Regions from separate parts of the Homo sapiens genome. Here region 1 is reported to be linked to region 2. The links are microRNA targets in miRTarBase. Many come from high-throughput screens and were not tested one by one. Region 2 holds a microRNA gene; the other region holds the end of a gene's coding sequence.
What was found. Region 2 holds the annotated microRNA hsa-miR-3664-3p (UCUCAGGAGUAAAGACAGAGUU, at 5,104-5,125, opposite strand). A microRNA usually pairs through its seed, bases 2 to 8, with sites in the 3' UTR of a target mRNA and lowers its output. Matches are read on the target gene's strand: a 7mer-m8 pairs with bases 2 to 8, a 7mer-A1 pairs with bases 2 to 7 and ends in A, and an 8mer does both.

Region 1: miRTarBase lists CASKIN2 as a target of hsa-miR-3664-3p. Seed matches in the 3' UTR shown: 7mer-A1 at 1,104-1,110 and 7mer-A1 at 1,353-1,359.

What each region holds. Positions count from the first base shown.
Region 1 is chr17:75,494,773-75,501,772 of GRCh38, reverse strand. CASKIN2 (CASK interacting protein 2) reads left to right here. Exons shown (of 20, transcript NM_020753.5): 19 at 83-305; 20 at 603-1,512. The coding sequence ends at 693. TMEM94 (transmembrane protein 94) reads right to left here. Exons shown (of 32, transcript NM_014738.6): 19 at 6,965-7,000; 20 at 6,739-6,877; 21 at 6,374-6,489; 22 at 6,130-6,229; 23 at 5,699-5,807; 24 at 5,302-5,491; 25 at 4,966-5,043; 26 at 4,575-4,660; 27 at 3,911-3,992; 28 at 3,450-3,598; 29 at 3,235-3,329; 30 at 3,051-3,144; 31 at 2,691-2,861; 32 at 1,321-2,511. The coding sequence ends at 2,439. It overlaps MIR6785 (microRNA 6785), which reads right to left and starts at 3,225; the gene lies at 3,145-3,225.
Region 2 is chr11:70,867,186-70,874,929 of GRCh38, forward strand. It overlaps MIR3664 (microRNA 3664), which reads right to left and starts at 5,183; the gene lies at 5,085-5,183. All of the region lies in intron 11 of SHANK2 (SH3 and multiple ankyrin repeat domains 2), which reads right to left.

The sequences.
Region 1 (7,000 bases), not on the chromosome of region 2:
GGGGAGGCCTGTGGGAGAGTCACTGCTGGCAGGGTTGTGTCTGACCCAGCCAAGTCCCAAGCCAACCTTTTTGTCTCTGCAGGAACAGCCCCCAAGCCTGTGTCGGTGGCCTGCACCCAGCTGGCATTTTCTGGCCCTAAGCTAGCGCCCCGGCTCGGCCCCCGCCCAGTGCCTCCTCCACGGCCTGAGAGCACTGGGACTGTGGGCCCAGGCCAGGCCCAGCAGAGACTGGAGCAGACCAGCTCGTCCCTGGCAGCTGCACTGAGAGCCGCAGAGAAGAGCATTGGCACCAAGGAGCAAGAGGGGTGAGGGGGGCCGGATGGGGAGGGAGAGAAGGCTGCAGAGAAACAGTGCTCCCTGCATCCTCTGCCCAGGGATCATGGGGATGTTGGAGGGGGACATTGCAGGCACTAACGGGATAAGAGGCCAGGTGTTGAAATCACCTAGATCAGGGAATCCTGGTGGCTACCATTTAAGAGGCACAGGAGCCTGGCCGGTCCCTTGCCTCCCTGAGCCTCTGGGAGCTATGACAGCTCCCTGCCCCAGGGCCAGTGGGGTGCAGGCCACTGGCTGATCTGACCGCATCCTTCCCCTTGCTGCAGCACCCCCAGCGCCTCCACCAAGCACATTCTGGATGACATCAGCACCATGTTCGACGCCCTGGCTGACCAGCTGGACGCCATGCTGGACTGAGCCCTCCAGCAGTGCCCACTGTGACCTGCCGAAGTCCACTGCCTTTGCCCCAGCACAGAAGAGGCCCCTGCCACCCTAGGGACGGGCCAAGGGCTGGTCAGGCTGAAGTGCCCCTCCTAGCAGGGCCCCTTCCCACTCAGCCCGCGGCTGTGGGCACCACAGCTCTTGTGGGGCAGCCCACCTTAGAACCTGACTAGCGAGGGACCTCCGCTGCATCTCAGCAAAGCCCCTCCCAGGGTTTGATCGATTGAGCAGGACAGCCCTGCTCCTGGACAGGGACCCTGGTAAGAGCTCTCTCCTCAGGGAGGAAGTAGGGGTGGGGCTTTGGGGGTGCTTTCTCTGTACCCCCCAGCCCATGTCCCAAGTTGTGCCAAGGGAATGCCTCTTGCCACCCACCATCCTGCCCAGGCCCTGAGAGGCTGGAGGAGGCGTGTGTCTGGCCGGGCCCCCTCTCCGTAGGTGTACAGAGGACATGTAAATACACAGCGGTGGTGCCCAGGCAGCTCCTGCCCCCGCCTTCCCTCACTGAGGCAGGGCTAGCAGGGGTGGGAGGCAGTGGGGTTAACAGATCCCACAAGTCCTAACTTTTCAATTGTAAATGTTATTTTCTAAGCAGAGAGAAATGCATATATTTTAAATGGAATTTATTCTATCAACTGCCTGAGAGGACACAATGGGGGAGGGGCTTCGGACCACAGCAGGAGCCCCGACTGCCCACCTGAGGGCAGGGAGAGCCTGACCCCATTGGCCCAGGCCCTGGCTCTGTAACCATTAACCTCTTCCCCCAACTAACACCAATGAAAACACCATTCCACGTGACTGGGCTGTGTGTTTGCCTCTGTGACATGGGGACCCCTGACCCTAGGGGTCTCGCCTGAGCCAGACCTGAGGGACCCACCCGCGTAGATGGAGGAAGGTTTAGGCCTCCCTTTGCCAGCCACCGCCGGGGGTGGGCAGACCCTGGAGTGGCCTTACAGACCAGCCACAGGTATTTCTTAGCAATTGACACATTTTAATACAAACCAGTCTACATTCATTCCTAAAAGGCTCATTTCCAGTAAAAAATATACACCAGTAGAAACTTCTCCCAGAACTGGGGCAGAGGCTGAGGAGACCTGGGCCAGATTCCCCAAGACTGACAGGCAGCCAGCTTGAGCCAGGCACAGGAAGAGGCTCCAGGGCGAAGCGGGGGCCCTGCTCCATCTTCAGGTTCAGGCGGGAGACTCCCCCACAGAGGGAGGGAGGGGAGGCACTCGGGGCCACATCCAGGCAAGCACCACCCCCCTGCCCTCCACGGCAGCCTTGGGAGTTGGACGCGTCGGCCAAGGCTGCTGCTGTTGCTCCTCCAAAGAAGGTTGGCTTCAAGGCCGTGTCCAGGGACCCACGAGCAGAGGCACTGGGGGGCAAGGGATCTCCAAGGGGGCAAGGGATCCCTAAAGGGGGTAGCTCACAGGTGAGGGGGTTTAGGGCCCCTCTAGGGAGCGCCTGAGGCCATACATTCAAGAGTGTCCCTGGTGAGGCCCAGGGAAGAGCCAGGACTGGCCAAGGGCCCAGGCCGTCAGCTCCTCCACAGTGAGCCCCAGGGCTCAGGAAGACAGCGGGGTCTGACACGGGGAGCTGGGTTTCCAGTGCCACGGGTGCAGGAGCAAACCTGGAAACATTCATGATACAAACTCCCCTGTTCAGAAATGGGTCTGGCTTTAGCCCCAGGGACGGGGGCAACTACAGCCACCACAGCCAGTGGCTCAGAAGGGAGAGTTCATGCCCAGCTTAGTTTCAAACTGCAGCTTCTGTCGCTTCTGGTAGCGGACTCGGACCCTGGTGGGGCAGGAGATTAAAGTACAGGTTGGCAAAGATCCTTAGACCAGGGGCCGGGGCAGGACACCAGAGGAGGAGGGAGGGATGGGCAGCGGAAAGGTGGGGGAGTGTCGCCAAGGGAGTAACAGGTTTAGGGAACATGCCTGAGCCCAGAGGGAGGCGCCCTGCTGACAGCTCACCGAATCTCATGTAGCTTCACGATCTCATTGGTCACCACCACAAGGACCAGGGACAGGCAGCCCAGGAGCCATGTCAGCAGGGGCACGTCCTCCAGGCCAAAGTGGACGTGGCTGTCCCTGTGTGTCCACAGCTGCAGGTCCACAGCCGTCTGGACCACCTGACCCAGCAGCCTGCAGGAGGTGGCGGCCCCGTGTGAACCCGACACTGCTTGCTTCCTTCCCTGCTCTTCCCAGTACAACAGTTAGCTCAGGCAGGGTACAGTTAAACCACTGGCCCCGGTCCCGCCCTCCGATCCTAGCCCTGCAGAAGGCCCTCTCCTCCCCAGCCCACACTCCGCCCTCCATCCTAGCAATACTCACACCACAGGCACTGTCACGGCCCACCAGAGGTTGGTCAAGGGGCTCTTTCTCCACAGGGGCTTGGTGCGATGCACATGGGTGATGGAAATGAAGACTGGGGAAGGTGGGGCGATGTGGGGGTCAGACTTCCACAGTGGGGCTCCTCTCCCACCATCATCCACGCCCTCCCAGGGAGCCCTCTCACCAGTGTGCAGGACAATCAGGGCGGCCGTGAGCTTCTGAGCCGACAGCAGTCCATTGGCAAAGTCCTCAAACCAGGCTGGAGCCCTGTCGTCGTTGCTGCCAAAGTGAGGCATGGGCTCAGCCCCTCTAGGGCCGCAGGGAGGTAGGCTGGGGTGGGGAGGGAGGAAGCCTCGAGGCGAGGCAGGCGATGGGTGGATCTCTGGGGCTGGGACCCACCTGGGCAGCATGACGGAGGAGCAGTTGGTGAGGTTGCGGTCCCGGGAGCTGTCACAGAAGCTCTGCAGTGTGAAGCCAAAGCAGATGAGGCAGGAGCTGATGGTGAGGCTGAACTTGAGCAGGAAGCAGAGCAGGAAGTAGTGCTGGGTCTGCGGGAACAAGGCCAGTCACTCCTGGGGCGCACAGCCCCTCTGCCGGCTGCTCCTAGCTCTTCCACGTATTCAACGGGCTCTTAGTAAATGGTCAGGCCTGGGGGGATAGGGAGCTCAAGCCCCAGCAAGGGTCTTTCCCAGCTCTGTGCCACTACCTCCTCTTTGATCTGGGGGAAGACTAGGAACCAAGTGCCGGAGTTCTGCTGGAATCCCCCATCCAGAGCCTTCCAGATTAGCCCCTCTCTCCTCCCCCAATCCTCAGTCCCTTCCATGCTCACTTGCAAGGCTCACAGGGTCTGTTTTGCTTACCTTCTTGGGAATGGACTGGAGGTTTTTCCCCGTTGCCATAGACATGATGGAGCTATGGGGGGGCTTCCCCAGCAGAGAGATGCTGAAAAGCAGAGATCAGGTAGAGGGATGGTGACAATGACCCTCTGTCCCTCAATTCTCATAGAGGGAACCTCTAGGGAGTCTTGCGCGTGAGGTCGAGTCTGGTGAGGGGATGGAATAAAACAAAGGCTGGACGGCAGTGGCTCACACCTGTAATCCCAGCACTTTGGGAGGCTGAGATGGGCAGATCATTTGAGGTCAGGAGTTCAAAACCAGCCTCGCCAACATGGCAAAAACCCATCTCTACTAAAAATACAAAAATTAGCCAGGCATGATAGTGGGTGCCTGTAATCCCAGCTACTCAGGGGGCTGAGGCAGGAGAATCACTTGAGCCCGGGAGGCGGAGGTTGCAATGAGCAGAGATTGCACCATTGCACTCCAGCCTGGGTGACAGAGCGAGACTCCATCTCAAAAAAAAAAAAAAAAAAAAAAAAAAAGACAAAGGGGGTTCCCTCCATGCCTCCTGTACCAGAGGAGGTGAGACCTGAGCAGTTCCAGAACCTTGGGCTCCTGGGGCTGCACAGTGACATCCAGACACCTCCTGCTTAGGCATGGGGTGTGGGGAAGATACATGGCATCTCACCTGAGCAGAGGGTAGCAAAAGCAGGACAGCCACAGGATGTCGGTGGTACTCAGGAGTGGCGGCAGCTGGACCAGGCAAGAAAGGAACTAGACCAGGAAAGAAGCCAAGAGCCACAGTTCAATTCAGGCAAATAATAAGGGCATAGGAGCCCCCGAGCTCCCTTGCCCTGGGCCCAGATAGATGCTCACATCCTGCCAGAGGGAACAGGGGCCGGAGGGAATACTCTTCTGCCAATGAGGGTCAGCTCAAAAAGCCCAGGGGCTTCACAGAGGCTCTGGGGGGACCCCTTGACTGTACTGCTAACCCCAGCCTCCTTCCTCAGATTTTCAGCTGGCCCCTGAGTGAAGGGGTGAGTGGCACGGGGGCAATGCCTGTGCGGGCCCCACCTCACCTGGATGACCACAAGAGTCAGCTGGCACTGCAGCAGGAAGAGGAAGCACTTACGGATGCCATAGGTGGCATGCCGAGCCTAGGGACCAAGAGGGACAGATTATGGCCTGGGTCTACCTGGCCTCTCCCAGGCCCAACAGCTGACACACTTTAGCCAAGAGCCAGACGCCCAGGATGCTTCTACGAGGGGAGCAGAGGCGAATGTAACTGCCTGGGAGAGCCCGCTCGGAGGGCTGGGGAATGAGGTCCCCGGGTTCAAACAGGTCCTTTGCTGCTACTCCCACCCCAGGCGGGTCCTGTCCTGCGTCTCTCCTCCTTTGCCTGCCGAAGCACCCACCTGTTCGATAAGCCGGATGATGCTGATGGTCTCCTCCTGGCGAAAGGTCAGGGAACAGGGCAGGCTGTTGAGCTGCCCTGACAGCTGCAGGGGAGAAAGGCCATCCGAGGCCTGGGCCATGCTGATGCTGGTGGCGTAGCCAAAGGTCTCCCAGGAGCAACGGGATGGGTACAGGGGATCCAGGGCAATGCTGCTCAGGGTGGGGGACACACACACTTCAGCTGTATCTCCCACAGGACTGGGCACCCCACCCTCTTCTCCCACCATGCCCAGGTGCATTGGTCCCAGCCAGGGCGAGGTCGGCTATAGTACACACCCCCAGCCCCACGCAGGCCCATCTGATCCTCCGGTCTGGGAGGTAGAGGCTGGCCCGCAGGCTCCAGGGTCCCGCCCTGACCTGATGTCGCTCTGGAGGAAGAGGCAGCTGTTCCGCAGGTTGGCAGAGCTGCCCAGGCAGCAGGTCACCTCCCCGTACTCTTGCATGATCTTTATCATCTCACACATGGCTGAGGACAGCGTATAAGGGCACCAGAGTCAGGCAGGCAGAGCACCAAGTGGGCACTGGGCAGAGACCCATGGGACAGGAGAGCAGGAGGCGATGGGAGGTGGGCCCCTCTTTGAAACAATCCCACCCCCGGCAGCGGGATCATGTGAACATCGGCACTTCTGACTCCAACCCACAAGATTCCCCAGCTGATCCCAGCCCAGGTTCCTTTACTCCCTGCATGGGAAACCTACATCCCTCCAGAGCCCACGGGGTACGCAGGCCCAGGCAGAGCTCAGCCGACGGGACCAGGTTGCCCAAGTACCCATGGCCACAGCACTCACTCTCTGGGGTGCAGTCGGTGAAAAGGGGCACTAGCAGGGGCACGTTGTCAATGTTCTGCAGGTGGGGCCGCACTTGGTGGATACCCCGGGGCAGCTTGGCCTGGAGAAAGCAGAGATGCCAGCGGCTTCGGGATGGGGATCAGCATCCCTCCCCTCCACCGCCTGCCCACCACCTCTCTACCTCTCCCCTGGACCAGCTATGGGACCACTACAGGAACACGTGAGACAGATCCTGCCATCGTACCCGGTTGGAGTCCTCCAGGAAGCTGGGGATGTCGCTGTCCGTAGGCTGGAAGCTGATGAGGTCCGAGTGGCCCTCCTCCTCCATGAGGAGGAGCCCTTCTGCATCATCTCGGGACACTGTGGGGACAAAAGCCTCTCCCTCACCTTGGGACCAGCCTTCTGGGAACCTGTCCTTGCCCTGCAGAGAATTTTTTGCCTGTGTCCACTCCTTCCTGCTGACTACTGTTTCCCGCAGGGACATCAGAGCCATTTCCCAAGGGAATGTACTTAACTGGAGGGCTCTCCGGAGGCTCTTCCTGGCTGTGGCTCTGAGGAGGGGAATCCTCCCACCGCCACCCCGTCCCCACCCCACGCCTTTGCCCTTACCCTGATTCAGGTCATCATGCAGGGAGCCTGCGTGGCTGGGGCTGGAGGGGGGGATCTCGGAGCCAGGCATGTCACCATTGGGTGTGAGGGAGATGTGGCAGTTCCAGCCTGTCTCCAGGCCCATTTTTTCTGCAAACACCTGTGAAAGGCAGACGGCCATGAACATACGGGCCCAAAAGCCCGTGGAAACAGAGTTAGTGGTGGCAGAAGGGATGGCTCTCCCCACCTTGCTTTTGAGCTCATCCTCCAAAGAGAAGTAGAC
Region 2 (7,744 bases):
CAAGTTCTAGAATACGAAGGTGCCATCCTGAGGTCAGCTGTCTCCTATCCGGGTAGGGGTAGGTGGAGGGTGCTGGTGGAAGGACGCTCTTGTCCGAGTCCTCAGTAAATCCTGAACACAGGGGAGGACCAATGAGGAGAGTGCACACGTCTTGGCTCCACACGGGCAGCAGGGCCGAGAGCAGGTCCGGAGGCCAAGGATCAGGCCAGGACTCCACCAACGGAGGACGAGAGGCAAGAGCCGCTGTTAACAGCAAACAGCTATGTCCACTGCTGGGGAGTACGGCATGCGCATGAGGGCTGAGGGGTGGGGCAGGACGGGCCAAAGCTGCCTGAGCCAGGGATGCCTTCACAACCTCGCTGCCCCAGCCAGAAAAGTCTGCCCAGGCCACCGGCTCGTGAATGTGGGGTCAGCTCAGCCATGTTCCCTCTTGAGAATCGACGCTATAGATTTGTATTCATTACCCACTGAATTCAGAGCCAGCCAGACATCCACGTCTCACCCCAATAAAAGCTTTAACATTTACCCAGCGGCACAGAGTCATTATTCTGTGACAATATTCCACTGCTGACCTTTATTGCCTAGGACTCTCTGTGAAGTTTCCAAGGAAGCATTTCAGCGTTCAGCACACAGGACCCAGGTCCACCGCCTCCACTGCTCCTGCACCGGCCGGCCCCCGCCTCCCGCCCATCCATCTCTGGGCTGTTTGCCTCTGTCTGGACTTCATGTACTGACAGTGTGTTTGCTACCACTTAATTCCATCACTGACTGTGCCTCCCTCTAAATTGATCAGTGTCAATTCTGGGCAAATAATTGGGTGGAATTACCAGCGGGTCCACCCGTGCTGATTATGCAAATAATGTACGCCGTCACCAAGGGCCCGGCGCTGGCAGTAAGTGTCTAAACTCCTTAGCATTTGACAGCATAATTGAAGACACAAATATGAAGCCTAATGAAGAGTTTCTTTTCTCGAGGAAGACTCCCTCGTTCTCACTTTCAATGGCTTGGCCCAGAGGGTGCAGGTGAAGAAGGTGGGTCGCATAGACACAGAGGCTGAGGGGGTCGGCATACGGACACCTGTCCACGGACATGGGGCGGTGTGATCTGCTCTTGGACAACCCCAGGGTCATAACCTGTGCCTGCTATGATAAGCCTGGTCAAGCTGGATAAACTCCCAGGCCTCGGTTTCTCCATGTGTAAAATGGAAATAATACTATAATAAACAATGACAACAGTCAAGAGTCCCTCTACCACCACTGCTACTAGCTGGGCACGAGGCTATTGACTATTATTTATCCCTGTGATACAGAGGAGGCAACTGTGGCACAGAGAGGTTAAGTAACTTGTCCAAAGTCACACAGCCTGTGAAGGGCAGAGTCAAGACACAAGCCAAGAAGGTGGGTTCCAGAGTCCAGGCTCAGCCTATGGACTGAGCTGGGCCATGTCCACATCTTACACAGTCAGCCTCACACCCCACGGGGGCAGCCCAGGGCCCCACCCACACAGGGAGCACAGTCACTGGAGCTGCCACGGCCAGTCCTAAGTCCCATCCGGGAAAGGGCTCTGGCACGGAAAGCCCTGTTTGGACACAACATGCGGCCTCCTCATCCTCACCCATTCTCTTCCACAAACCTGCCCAATTCTCACCCAGGGTGCCAAAGTCCAGAGGATGTTGGGGGAGGGCGTCCTGCAGTTAGAAGCCACATCCAGGTGGGCGCTGAGTGCTAGAGGCTGAACTGTGTCACCTGCAAAATTCATGTGACGCAGGCTTCACCCCCAGGATATCAGCATGTGTGCGACTGTATAGGGAGATGGGCTTTAAAGAGGCAACTAAATTAAAGTGAGGCCAGATGGGGCAGGTCCTAAATCCAATCCAACTGGCGTCCTTACAAGAAGAGATCAGGACACAGACATACAGAGGGATGACCCCATGAGGATACAGGGAGAAGGCAAAGTCTACAAGCCAAGGAGAGAGGTCTCCGGAGGAACCAGTCCAGAGACCCCTTGATCTCAGCCTTCCAGCCTCCAAAACGGTGAGACGATAAATGACTTGTGTAAGCCTCCCTGTCTGTGGTGCTTTATGACGGCAGCTGGAGCAAACTCATACACCATAGATCCCGACAATCTGTCCTAGAGGCCTCCAGACCAGCAGGTTTCAGAGGGAGGACAATGTATCGGTCCACAGGCCACAGAATGCTTGGGATGCACCGATCGGCACGTTATTAAACCCACTGGGACCAACAGAACTCCACACATCCCATACCAGAGTGATTAATGCTTCCAATCTCAGCCTGTGCTGTAGGAGGCTTTCATATTTCACGGCAAAGTTGTGCAGACCAGTTGGTTCATGGCAGGCTGTCTGTCCCACCTTGCTGCCTATGGCCTCTCCACCAAGCCAGGCTCGGGTATGGAGCTCCTGACCGTCCACAGCACTCTGTCTGCTCTGTGTCCTGGGCTAGAAACCTGATAACCAGCAGATACTTCCTTGGGTTGGGCACCCTGGGCTCGGTGACCACCGTGTCATCTTGGCATGTCCCCATCATCTCCTTGATTGTCCTCCCCCAGACAGGGGGCTCGACGGGGAGTCCATGGTGGTGTTGTTGGAAGATGGGATGAGAACTGACACTGTGGTCACTTACTGCCGCACTGGGTGCTCAGTCGCCGCTGGGTCAGTGCAGGGACCTCACCACCAATTATGTGAATGCCTCCCCTCTGCCTGAAGCTCCCCAGGCTCTGCCTTCTCACACACCCAGAAACCCTCACAAAAGTCCACAAGAGTGTCCCCCCAAATCCATGTCCACCCAGAACCTACGAATGGGGCCTTAACTGGAAATGGGTCATTGCCTCCTTGCAGATGTGATCAGTGAGGTTGCGACGAGGTAATACTGGATTAGGGAGGGTCCTAAATCCAATAATTAGTGTCCTTATAAAGAGAGTGTGGCCCAGGGCACTATGGAAGAGGTTTGAGGATGAGCACAGCAGCAGAATCTGAGTGCTGGAGGCTCACCCAGGCAGAGTGTGCTCCACTTCGTTCCAGGGGACTGAGAGAAATGAACCCGGGGTGAGACCCAGAGCCGTCCCCTCCTGCAGTCCATCTGGGCCAAAATGAGAGCCCAACCAGTGGGGAGGGAGGGGCAGATTCAGGAAATAGAAAAAGTGGAAGGGGCTGGTTCTGGACAGATGGGAAAAGGGCAGGTGAGCGCCAGGAAAGATCTAGGAAGGTTTTTGGGTTTTCAGTTCCTGGGCCATAACTGAGATGGGGTGCCCAGGAGGAAGGGCCAGCTGGCCAGGAAAGATGGGGTATGTTCACTGGAGCTCCTGTAACCACAGCCTGGGTGACTGAAACCACAGGGATGAATTGTCTCATGGTTCTGGAGGTTGGAAGTCTGAGGTCAAGGTGTTGGCAGTGGGGGGGTTCACACTGGGGACTGCAGGGAGACTCTGTTCCAGGCCTGTCTCTCCAGCTCCCAGTGGCCTGTAGGCAATCTTTGGCATTCCTTGACTGACAGAAGCATCACCCAGAGCTCTGCCTTCATCTTTGTGTGAGGTTTGCTCCGAGTGCATGGCTGTGGCCACATTTCATTCATTCATTCATTCATTTATTTATTTGAGATGGAGTCTTGCTGTGTCGCCCAGGCTGGAGTGCAGTGGCACGATCTCGGCTCACTGCAGCCTCCGCCCACACAGATTCAAGTGATTCTCCTGCCTCAGCCACCCAAGTAGCTGGGACTACAGGCACCCGCCACCACGCCCGGCTAATCTTTGTATTTTTAGTAGAGACGGGGTTTCACCATGTTGGCCAGGCTGGTCTCGAACTCCTGACTTCAGGTGATCCATCCGCCTCAGCCTCCCAAAGTGCTGGGATTATAAGCATGAGCCACTGCACCCGGTCCCATTTCCTCTTTTTATAAGAATATCAGTCCTACTGGATTAGGGCCCAATCTAATGACCTCATTTTCAGCTGATGACTTCTGTAAAGACCCTACCTCTAAACAAGGTCACACTCTGAGATCCTCAGGGTGATACTTCAACATATGCATTTGCAGGGACACACTTCAAAGGGGAGTCAGGGGTCTGGGCTCGCCTGGTGGCAGGCTCTGCAGGAGATGAGTCTGAGGGTCCAAGAGGAGGTCCAGGGAGCGCTCTGCAAGCCACCAGCCCCGAAGATCACTGGCACCATAGGAGCAGGGCAGGATGGGCGGGGGTGGGGAGCAGAGAGCAGAGCAAGGGCAACCACAGAACCTGGGGCCACACCACCTTCTGAGATGAGCCACATAGCCTGGCACTGAGCCTCCTTCACGTGCTGAGGCCACATCTGTGTGCCATGGAGCCTGTGAGCCCCTGGAGGGAGAGGCTGTGCCTGGGACCCTGCGGATTCCCCAACACATTTGCTGAACAAGCAGGGCAGGGAGAGAAAGGAAAGTGAGGTCGAGACAAATATTATAAATATGACCATATCCCTGATGGAGAAGAAAGTCAAGAAAGAGTTCATGTTGAAAGGCAACACGGGCCAGACACACCTGGTACTCAGGGGCCCTGCAGGGTTTTACAGCAAACTGTGGCCACATGGGGGCTGGGAGGGGACAGCCAGGAAAGAGGCACAGTCCCCATCTGAATTTGACTGAGAGACTCTTTGAAGCCGTCTGAGATTTCCATATACGATTTCTATTAATATTTAAGGCAAGACGCATCCCATCCTCCATAACAACACCGTCTTGAAAGAAGCCTTTGAACTACTTGAAAGGTAAACCCAGCATTATTCTTGGATTAAGAACTCTTGTTCATTCAACAAATACAGCCCCACGACGACATCCCTGAACACCAGAGCCAGAGGTGCCTTGGCATGTGCACGCTGCCTGCTTCTGCAGCAGTAGGATGATGCGTGTGTGGCCTGTTACGTCACACCGCCAGTGGGTCTGGGCAGTGTCCCATTGCCAATTGCGGGAGGAGTCCTTCAGGGCACGGATGAATAATCATGCTAAGTAGGATAAATAAAAACTATAAATAGCCTCAAATCAGTTCAGGTCAAGTACTACTGCCAACGAGCTACGGAGAAGGCATTCGCTTTTCAGATCTTTTTGCAGATCCACATTGAAGGTAGGGAACTCTGTCTTTACTCCTGAGAGCTCGTGTTGGAAGGTACTCATGAGTGAAGACAGAGTTCCCTACCTTCAAGTTTACAGAGGAGACGGGGTGCACAGTGGAAAGGAGGGGAAAAAAACCCCACACGCATGAAGAGGAAAGACAAGTAGGATGCAGGCTTGGAGGTGGAGGCTCGGCGGGACGGGGAGAAAAAAGGACAAGACCCTTCCCTAGAAGCGCTTGGTGGACACAGTGGGTGCAAACGACCAAGTGGCTGGATGGAGGGAAGAGAGACCCTCAGATGGAGGGAATAGGGGGCCCCCATACAGAGGGGCCCCCCACAGACCAGAGTCAGGGGCACACAGGTCCGTGAGCTACGTGGAATGAGAGATGGGTCCCTGGACCACATTACTTCCGGCTCCCTGGTGTATCTCCTCCACGTTCTGGCCACCTGCGGGTCCCTGTTTTCCTCCACACTGACCACTTGAAAACTGATGGGTGGCAATTTTCACCCCTCATTGTCCTAAGGGTCGTGGGGGCTGCTTTGCTTGGTGCTGGAGTCTGGGGCCACAGTGGAACATGGCATTGATTGCTAAGAGGAAGGGACCCCACGATGCCCTGTAGAGCCCAGCTCCTCGGGGCAGGAGGAGCACATATCCACTGTCTGCCCTCTCCCCACACTCATGACCTCCACCTCCCCCAGCCCCAAACATTACAAAAGCTAAAGACATCCTGGGCACCTGTGAGAAAGGAAGAGCGGAGGTAGTTCCCACGTCCATCCTGGTGCCTCTGCCTCCCGGGTGGCGACCCTCAGGAAGGTGAAACCTGCAGCTTGGGCCCTGCAGTTTATAGAATGATATGTTTGTGGTTCCCTAAAACAAAGAGCCGTTGCCACAGCAACCGTGGCATCCCAGCACTCAGAGGCTATTCTCAGACACTAAACAATGAGTTTTGCCTTTCAAATGCATTTGATACAATTTGCTTGGAAGGCATTAACATCCTCTGACAAAACCCATGAGGAAGAGGAGGGCAGGTGAGAGCTGACAAGGTCGAGACTTGCAGGGCTTCCAGGAATCACACCCATTCATGAGACAGGAGGGCCCAACGGCCCCAGACACTTTCAATAGGCAAACAGGAAATGGGAAACAGCAGAGGGGAGGCAGGCAGGATCCCTAACCTTCCAACAGCAGTTCCGTGGAGGAGGAGGGGCTGCCCAGAGGTGAGGCAGTTGGGATCCCTAACCTTCTAGCAGTGGTCCCATGAAGGAGGAGCGGCTGCCACACACCCTTTCGGGGCTTCTTCAGGAGAGACGTTCCACAGTCCCATCTGGGGCAGTTCTCTTCTTCAGGGTCACTGCAAAGATGGCAGCACAGGCCAGAGCCCGCAGCAACCACTTAATCCACCCTGCTCACTCTGCAAAGGACATTGAGTGCGTCCCCTGCTCACAGCCAGCCATTGCTTCCTCCATTTACCATTTTTTTTTTTTTTGCCAGTTCATGAACAACTTTGCTATTGTTTACAACGATCTCATGGGATTAGAATACCAAACAGTGATGCCAGTGAGAAGACCAAATAACCTTCATTCCTAGCACCAGCCTCCTGTCACTAGCACGCTGGGCAAGCTGCCCTCAAAAACAGCTCCCGGGCGTCAGTGACAGGAACACGTGTCATCAGGAAAAAGGCATGATGTAGGCAGGCTGGGGGCAGCATCCCAATGCAAAGTACATTTTTGAACAGACTAAAGAACATGTGAACAGTACACAGAAATTCCTCCATCTAGCCATCTATCCATCTACCTATAGATCCATCCATTCATCCATCCATCCATCTTATCTATCAATCCATCTATCTAATCTATCCTATCTATCCATATCCATCTATCCATATCTATCTAATCTATCTACCTACCTACCTAATCTGTCCATCCATCCATCCATATCTATATACTCCATCTATCTATCCATTCACCCATCCAGCTATCCCTCTAATCTAATCTAATCCAATCTAATCTAATCTAATCTATCTAATCTATCTAATCTATTTATATGTAATCTATCTATCTATCCATGATTTATCTATCTATCTAATCTATCTATTGAGACAGGGTCTCTGTTACACACACTGGAGTGCACTGGCCCAGCCGTAGCTCACTGTAGCCTACAACTCCTGAACTCAAGCAACCCTCCTGCCTCAGCCTCCTGAGAAGCTGGAACTACAGGCACATGCCCTTCCTCTGTATGGCAAAATTATTTTCATTAACAGTCATGTAATAACCATCATTTTATTGATTTGTGCATCAGTTTTAAAACCAAATATTTTGAAAGAATGAATGTCAATTTTAAAGGTATTATCCAAATCCAATAAAATAGTTCATGTAAGCATTGAAATCTGCATATCTGCATTTACTAAAAAAAAAAAAAAAAAAAAAAAATTCCACCTTGTAGTTCACATCCACTGCCGTTTCAAATTTTAAACACAGATGAAAACTCCGAGTGGCTACCTAGAATGACAGCACTGAAGGAACACGAGTTCACTTTGTCTTTATAGTTACTGTGCCCTCATGTCTGTTTCAAATCTACCGTGTAATAGCAGGAATGGTGATCACAGGGCATGGAGACCAGGCCATTCCGGACCCTGCAGACTTCACTCCAGTCAAAAGGCT